Linked DNA regions of Homo sapiens: region 1 is linked to region 2. The links come from fine-mapping of genetic effects on plasma protein levels. Region 2 holds a variant in brackets. A gene starts in the other region. All regions are shown on their reverse strands. Region 1 holds the start of H2AP (H2A.P histone). Region 2 has its middle 76 kb from the start of FAM30A.

The links. PIP is the posterior inclusion probability: the model's chance that the variant is causal. Protein levels are from antibody-based Olink assays in UK Biobank. Linkage for the fine-mapping came from a reference panel and not from the study's own genotypes, which makes the PIPs less certain.
Region 1: it holds the start of H2AP, and the variant in region 2 is fine-mapped to the plasma level of the H2AP protein (UK Biobank, PIP above 0.99).

What each region holds. Positions count from the first base shown.
Region 1 is chrX:37,990,608-37,994,984 of GRCh38, reverse strand. H2AP (H2A.P histone) reads right to left here and starts at 4,206. Exons shown (of 1, transcript NM_012274.2): 1 at 3,671-4,206. The coding sequence starts at 4,145. The coding sequence ends at 3,792. H2AL3 (H2A.L variant histone 3) reads right to left here and starts at 713. Exons shown (of 1, transcript NM_001395555.1): 1 at 81-713. The coding sequence starts at 641. The coding sequence ends at 195. It also overlaps a transcript of SYTL5 not described here.
Region 2 is chr14:105,991,625-105,996,019 of GRCh38, reverse strand. It overlaps IGH. Among named protein-coding and RNA genes, the nearest start is that of FAM30A, 76 kb to the right of the region's middle. The variant G/A (reference allele first, on the strand shown) is at 2,331.

The sequences.
Region 1 (4,377 bases), not on the chromosome of region 2:
GGGGATAGCTTCTCCTTGATGTCTCACAGACACCTCCAACCCAAAGCAACGGAAACGGAGACGAGTCAGGAGCACTGTCATGCATTTACACAGTTTAATAGCTTGGGCAGATGGAAGCAACCTGGGGTCTTTCATCTATGGGAATTTTGGCATCTGGAGGAGGTTGCTGATGAAGTCCCGCATGGCTCCGAAACTCAGGAATCCTTCCTCCTCCTTCTTCTCCTCCTCCTCCTCCTTCCCCCCATCACCACCAGCACCACCATCTCCTCCTCCTTCTCCTCCTCCTCCTCCTCTTCCTCCTCAGATTGGGGCATTTCTTCTACTTGAGAGTGGGTGTCATCTTCCAACTCCAAGATCCATCTGAGCTGCTCATCCTTTTGCAGTGCCCTCTTCACGTGTTCTGGGGTGATGCACAGCCTGCAGCTGTTCTTGACCTCCTTGCCCACCTTTTCCAGGATGTTGGCTGTCAGATACTCGAGAACACCAGCCAGGAAAACAGGTGTGGTTGAGCTCAGGTGCCGGGCATGCTGACTTTCTCGCAGGCAGCGTTCCAAGTGGCTGACAGGAAACTGCAGCTCTGCTCTTCTGGAATGGGAAAGGCGTTGTCTCCTAGGCCTACAGAACATTTTGTTTCCAGCCATGAGGAATTGCTGGGTTTTGCCCCAATTGGCACAGCTTGATTTTCCTGCTGGCCTGAGCCTCTCAAGGTACCAGTGCTTATTGCCACCCACTGTATCCCTATGCTCCAGCCCCTCATTGGTCAGGGAGTTGCCTTTGTGACAACCTCCACTTTTTGATGTCATTGGTGTCCACTGGGCTCTGATCAGGCCTCAGCCTAGAAAAGCCCATGAGAGGAACCTGATCACCCTAGCAACTGGAACTTCCTTTTGAGAGGGACCTGGTTGCCCCAGTAACCGGAGCTTCTTTTTGAAAGGAACCTGGTCACCCTAGTAACTGGAGCTTCTTTTTGAGAGGAACCTGGTCACCCTAGCAACTGGAACTTCTTTTTGAGAGGAACCTGGTTGCCCTAGTAACTGGAACTTCTTTTTGAGAGGAACCTGGTCACCCCAGTAACTGGAACTTCTTTTTGAGAGGAACCTGGTTGCCCTAGTAGCTGGAACTTATTTTTAAGGAAAAGCTCATTTTCTATTTAACATTTTAGCAAAAAATTGTGTCAATGAAAGTATTGTCCTGTCTTTAGGACACCACTCCAGGTTCTTTAAGTTTAGCCTTGCATTGTCTGTGAGCTAATTTACATTCCCTCTAGAAGCTGTAAGTCACTTACAGACATGTTCACTGCCTTGCTCCCAATTTTGCCTCCATGTATACATTTACTTAAACATTCATGATCAATGTTCCTATGTTTATTCTTTGAATTCCCTTTTGAATGGCTTATAATATCCGCCAATTTCCTCACGAGTTAATCGATTGTTTCAACGCATTTCCATATCATAGGTGTTTGAGTGTTATGATTTTACTCTGTTAGAAAATACCTTTTACCTGTTTTTAAAGGTCACAATGTTATACCCAGTGGATTCATCTATCAGAGCTAGGCAAACTTGGTGACAGAGATGTGTGCTTCATGCTTGGTTAAACCCAGGAATGTCTTTGCTTGCCTCATCTAGGTGACTCCAAAGCCCAAATAAGTCTTTGTTCATTGTGTTTTTCTAATTTTAGTTTCAACATTTAATTTTTATTTCAATATTTTTCTCTACTAATTCTGTATTTTGTTGTTGTTGTTGTTGTTCATTGACATTAGGTAAGTTATTTTCATTGTTGACCAAATGGTTGGGAATTCAGTTTTAGGATCCAACCATCTGGAGAGCTGTGTAAATGAGTTAATGATTCATAGAAATACAGTCTCTGTTGTGTAAAAGACAACAGAAAATCTGGTTTGACAGTCTTTTGTCCATTTGTCTATTTATAGCTCAAATCAATTAAGAATTTTATACTCTCTTAGAGGAGAACAGTTTTTTTTTTTATATTTGGATCAGAGAACTTTACTGTTTCTATTTACACTTGACTCACGGTTGAAATTGTAGAACTGAAGCTATAAGCTCTATCTCTCTGTGCCTATATGTCTATGTGCTTGTAATTCTGAAATAGCTCCACCTCTGATTGTGTGATTATGTAAAGTTTTCCTACCTCTGGATGGTATTGACGTGTTCGATTATAAAGTCTCTTTTGCTTACATAAATTAAATATTCCCAAATTCCTCCTGTCTCTCCACAGGGCTCAGCAGGATGTGGTTCTCACAGCCAGTGGCCTAAGTCCCCAGTGGTCACCTGAGAACCAGGACCACTGCACCTTGGGGAAGCCTGCCTACAGGTCTGCTGTTAGGGAAGGAAGGAGATGCAACTGTTTATTAAGGGGGACCCTGTGCATGCACTGTGTGGAACAGCAGTTTACAGGCACAAGTGGACTCAATCTTGGGAAAACCCACAGATGGAGAGACTTTTACTACCCCCATTTTACACATGAGGAGGACTGCTCAGAGGGAGTAATTGAAGGTCTAATATCACATGTCCAGGAAGTGGTGAACTGGGATCTGAAACCCAGGCCCGCAGCTCCCATTGTTGGAGCCGGCTGTGCAGCCTCTGACCAACCCTCTGTGAAAGGCCAGCAGGCAGCAGACTGTGGCTCCCAAGGACCCAAGGAAGAGGTGGAAACCTAAAATGTGGGCACTCACAGGCAAGGGGACAGATTGCTACAACACTTGATGTGACACCTCTTTTAAACTTAGCACAGAGCAGGAAGTTTTGAAAAGGATTGCATGTGCTTTAGAGGCCGCCACTTGGGACAGAATTATTTCTATACCTCTTAAAACATGGATTGAGTCACTAATAATCCTTTGGTGCTCTATGCAATATATGGTAATTATAATGAATAAGTATTCAATTTAAAAATGAAATTGTTAATCGTGTTTTAAATGAAATACATTTATAATTAAGCTGATTCATTAATAATTAACAACCATTAAGAACTTCTTGAATTGCCCATCTTAGGCCAGATCATAAATTTTATATATTCTTTTGATTTATTTTACCAGTGTCCTGAAGAGAGGACAAAAAGATATATTCACAGCACTAGCTAATAATCCCTGTCTCAAATCCGCTTTCATAATAAGGCAGGGCATAAAGAAATAAGAAATGAAATCCAGCAGGCCATCATTTCTTTTTTGCATTTTTCATGATGGTTTCTCCTTCACTCTTCAATCTCCATGTAAAGCCCCTGTCCCATGAACTTCATGCCAGCCAGTGTGCCCCTCTCCACCCACCCCTGTGGCCACCGCCCTCTGACTTCAGACCTTTGCTATCCTGAATAAAGCCTCCTGCACCTCAGTCAGAGTCTGCAGCTCCACCTCAGGCCCCAGCATCAGGCTGGGAATTCAACAAGCCTCAGAGGCCCCCAGCCAACTCCCTGGCCTCACAAGGCCTTCCTGTTCAGAGACAATGAGGAAGTCTCGGTGTCTTTATCCCAGCCAGTTCCTCCCCACAGGGCCGGCGCCCTCACTGTCACCATTGGAAACTGCCCCCTCTAAATCACTGATTCAAACACCACACTGGCCACCCCTTCCCCGCCTTCAGCTCTCTGGGGATAGCTTCCCCTGGATGTCTTACAGACACCTACAACCCAAAGCGACAGAAACTGAGAGGAGTCAGAAACATACTCATGGATTTACATCCTTTAATAGCACTTGTTGATGACAACAGCAGATATTCCTCAGCTGTGACACATTTTTGCCCTGGCTAAGCCTGTGAGGTTCCCTTCAAGGCTCTGGGACCCAGTCTTCAGTCATTCTTCCTGGATTTGGGCATCTCATCAAACAAAAAGCGAGTCACATCACTCTCAGCGCTGTGGGGCTCACGGTTGTTGTCCACTTCTCTCTCCCTATCTTGTGAAGTGTTGCGCATACTGCCATTGTTGCTGGCCTCCAAGCCTACCCGCTCCATGATGTAGTCAGCAAGGCAATCGAGCAAGGTAAGGAGGGTATTTATTGTGGAGGAACTCTGGCTTTGGACGTCTCGTTCATCTTGCACAACGCGGTCCACGAAGCTCCTAGGGACCTGTAGCTCATTTCTAGAAGGGTCTTGAGTCTGGTTGTTATTTGTAGACGAGTTCTTACAGTTCTTTTTCTCTGACATGATGTTTGCTGGGTTTGGCTCTCATCAGCTCTGCTTGATTCTCTAGCTCAAGTAGGTCTCTGAGGACACTAGTGCTTAGTCCTGCCTATTGTATCCCTCTGCTCCAGGCCCTTATTGGTCAGGGAGCTAGCTGCCTTTGTGACATCCCTAGACTTTGTGATTTCATTGGTGTCCACTGGTCCCTTATCAGACCTCAGCCTAGAAATGTCTATGACACTGATCTAGTCACGCT
Region 2 (4,395 bases):
TTTCGGATGTATATCATATGGCTACTCACCCTGGCGGAAAATTTGCCAAAGCACCTACTGAAGGATGAATGCACTAGCAATAAATTTTCTCAGAATCGATTTGTCTTACAGGGTATTCATTTGACTTTCGCTTTAAATGAAATTTTTAATATATATAGAATTCCAGTTTGACTTTAATTTGTAATTTATTTTCTTGTACTCATGTATTCATTATTTTCTTCCTGAAGATGGTAACACATTCCATTCTGCTGGGCCTTCATTATAGATATTTGTGTGTATCTATTCAGGGCTATATTTGCAATTTATGGATGCCACAATTATCAGAGTTGAAGTCAGCTTCTGCTGTCCACAGAGATTTCAAGTTCCTCCCATGATACTTGCTTTTGTGTCCCTGTTTGATCCTGGGTCTTTATATTTAGTTTTCCCCAGGGAGGCTGTCTGTTTCAGCTGTGGAAAGTGCACCCTACTGACAGTTTAAATTGATGACTGTGTGGTGAAGGAGGTTGGACAAAGCGGGACTTCCTCCAACCTTCTGACTGAGTCTCCTTCTTATGCAGGAGTAGTAAGCATAGTTCTGGGGAGTGGCCTTCCACATTGTCCTGTCCTTAACTCTTTCCCCAGGGCTGGAACGTCTTTTCCCAGACACAACTGTTTTTCACCAGTGTCCCCAGCTTTTTACCCACTATCCTTACCCTAAAGAGTAAGGATTTCTTTCCTGAGGAAAGAGATAGGAGGTGTTTCTGGATCAAGTTTCCTTGGTGTCGTCTGTTTCCTTTTGTTTCTGTTGACTTCACCACAGCTCATATGACACATGCTTTGGTGGATTTCCCCTGGAGGTAGTGGAGGTGCATTCAGGCATTCCACAGGAGCTGCTGTTCTTTTCCCCAGTCAACACCACAAGACACCAGATGAGGAAGTTGTCCGTGGATTTTTCAAGTTCTCTAGGAAAAGCTTGCAAGCACTAGGCCAATCTAACACCATTAGTACATGCATACTAAAAAAAAAAAAGTCATTAAGTATTTCTAGGTTAGTCTGTTTCTATCTCAAATGCCATCCAGTGGCACCTGCCCTATGTACACTAGCAGGTAGGTCCTGGTTCTCTCTGCAGGCTCCTATCTTCTCAGATTTCAGTTTTCTTGTTTGCTTGGTGAAATCAACTCAGATATGTTGAATGTTTTTTCTCTCTTTTATTTGTAGCTGTTCAGCTTCGTTGTTAATGAGGTCAGAATAAAATCACAGTTTTCTCATTTTTTTCACATTCCCACACTGAATAGCTGCTTTCCGTATAAAAGCCAGAAACTGAGAGAACACATTGAATATCCATTACAGGTGAATGTTAAACAATTTGAGATATGTTTGTGTACTGGAATAAAATGCTGCATTACAATCAAGTCATCACTCATTCACATAAAACATGGCCACATTCTCAAATAATGTAGGGACCTGAGTGCCCCTCCATCTACTGGCCTCTCCTGGGGCCCTAGCCTGGCCACACCTTCTTGCAGGGCAGTCTTGGACGCCCTGGGATCCCGCACCAAAATTTCTGCCCTGGCAGAACATGCCTGACTGGTGGAGAGCTCCAATCGGGCAGCCCTCATGTGCACACACCAGCTTACACACTTCCTCCGAATACTGTAGGTTCACCCAGGCCCACGTAACTTCCCACATCACTTTGCAGTCACATGTCTGTATAGGTGGGTTTTGCTTTTCTTGTCCCACCATTGCGTGGAGTGCAGTCCCCTCCCCCCACCCCAACCACCATGGCAGAGGAAGCTTTGGTGGGGAAAAAGCCAGGGCCGCTCCTGTCAGCGTCCCGCACTTGCGCTAATTCTGCACAGAGAATAGCAGATCATCTCACACATTCAGAAATCACTCCTGCTTGTGGGGCATGAATACGGCACCCGGGCCTGTGCCCACAAGTGTCCCATCCCTGAGCCAACACCTCCTCCAGTGTGACCTTGAACACAGTCACCAACAGGGCCCCACACACCCACAGACGCAATGCCTCTGCCACTGTGGCGAACACCTGCAGGGAGGCAGGCACCCAGACACCCACTAGCACTCTGCCACAGCTGCCACACCTCCAACAGCCCAGGACAGTGGATTCCTAACCTTAAGGAGCCGGAGAACCAAGTCAGGGACTAGTATAACTTCCCCCAGAGTCAGAGCACACAGTCTAGGTGTTGGGAGCTGAGCACTGGCCACCTAAATTTTTCCAGAAATGAAGCCAGTTGGCTGAATCCACCTTATACCACAATCAAACCCTCAAGGTCATCCAATAGGGTAAAAGAAAATAAAAATGTATCCAAAGGTCAGCAACTTCAAAGATT[G/A]AAGGTGGATAAGCCCACAAAGATGAGAAAGAACCAGTGCAAAAGTCCTGAAAACAAAAAGGGCGCCCTCTTTCCTCCAAACAACCACAGCACCTCTTCAACAGCAGTTCTGAATGGGGCTGAGATGGCTGAAATGACAGAAACAGAACTCAGAATATGGAGAGTGAAAATGTAGATGAATACAGCTATTTATGGAGAATACTATAAATGTTCCTCAAAAAATAAAGAAACAAAATCTACTGTAGAATCCAGCAGTCTCACTGCTGGCTATGTATCCAAAGGAAATGAAATCAACATGTCAAAGAGATATCTGCACTCCATGTTCACGTTCATTGCAGCATTATTTAAAATAGTAAAGATATGGAAACATCCTAAATTCCCATGAATGGATGAATGAATAAAGAAAATGCATACAGACACAACAGAGTAATGTTCATCCTTAAATAAGAAGGAAACCCTGCCTCTGTGACAGCATGCATGAATCTAGAGGACCTTATGCCAAGTGAAACAAGCCAGGAACAGAGGAAGAGTCATTCATGATTTCACTGTATATATTAAAGCAGTAGACTTGCAGAGGTAGAGTAGAATGTTGGTTACCAGGGCCTAGAGGGGTGGACTGGGAAAGGGAGATGTGGGTTAAAGTGCACAACGTTCCAGTTAGACAGGAGGTATAAGTTATGCCTTTCTAATGCACAGCATGTCAACTATAGCTGATAAGGTAGTATATATTTCAAAATTACTAAAAAAATAAACATTAGAATTTCCCCACTAAGAAATGATAAATTTGTGAGGTGATGAATATAAGCGGCTTGAGTTACCCAGTTCATAATGTATACATGTATCATAACTAAACAACATATGTCATAAATATATGCAAAAATTATTTGTAATTTATAATAAAATAAGTTTCATATTTAAATAATTACATTAAGAAAATGAACAGAAACTTTCAGATTTCAAGAATATTTTATATATATATATATATATCTTAAAACAAACTTGCAACAGAATATAGAAATAAGTTTTACGACTCAATGGAAAAGAACAGAATTCAATAAAAACTGGCTAAAAGAAACAACAGCTGCATCATTATAGAAAATTCTGGAATAATCAGCCATATAAAGATTCTCACTCTCTTAGAACTAGAATTCCGTAGGACTTGTAATTCCTCCTGACCTGGGTGGGAGGCAAAAGGAAGAACAGCTAATGGTGATTCAGTGAGTTTTATACCTGTGTGTACTTCTGGGCTCACTCAGCAGAAAGAAAAGAAGAAAAGAAAGAAAGAGAGAAAGAAAGAAACAGAAAGAAAGAAAGAAAGAAAGAAAGAAAGAAAGAAAGAAAGAAAGAAAGAAAGAGAAAGAAAGAAGAAGGAAGAAGGAAGGAAAGAAAAGAAAGAAAGAAAGAGAGAGAGGGAGAGAGGGAAGGAAGGGACAGCAGAAGTCATTGTGGTGTGTGTGAAAACACAATCCTTGGGCTCCCCCACATCCATCTCTACTCCAGTCCCATCAATGTCCAGCAAATACATTTTCTAAGATGAAGTATTTTAAACTTTCTAAATCCTGCTAGAAAACCCCTCAGCTCTTTCAGTTTTGCTCTATCACTTGAATTATTGAATTAAATCTAGTTTTTGTGGGCCTATCAATACCATAAGCCAAAATAACACATGAAGAAATTGCACTGAGACACATGAAAACCTTCTGAAAGCTCCATAATTTCAGATCTGCATTCTTATTTCCCCGAACCTAAATCACTGAATAGAGACTCAGAACGAGTTGATCTTGTTCCTGAACGTGCACAGAGCCAAGGACATCCTGTCTGTCTGGAACAGCTCAGGTTTGTTCCTGTTTCTCCTAGAGGATATAAAATCTTGAGTTAGGGAAAAACAGCCAGGGACACCCTGGGCTTTGTTCTTCTCTCCCCTGGAGGCAGGATGTCCTTCAGAGCTTTGTCCCAGTGGGTAACACAGCTGCTGAGGTGTACAACCCACGTGGCCTCGTTTTGGTCACTTTTGCATGGTGAGCCTGCTTTGCACCATGGCCTACAATATGCGTGTGTAACTAATCTG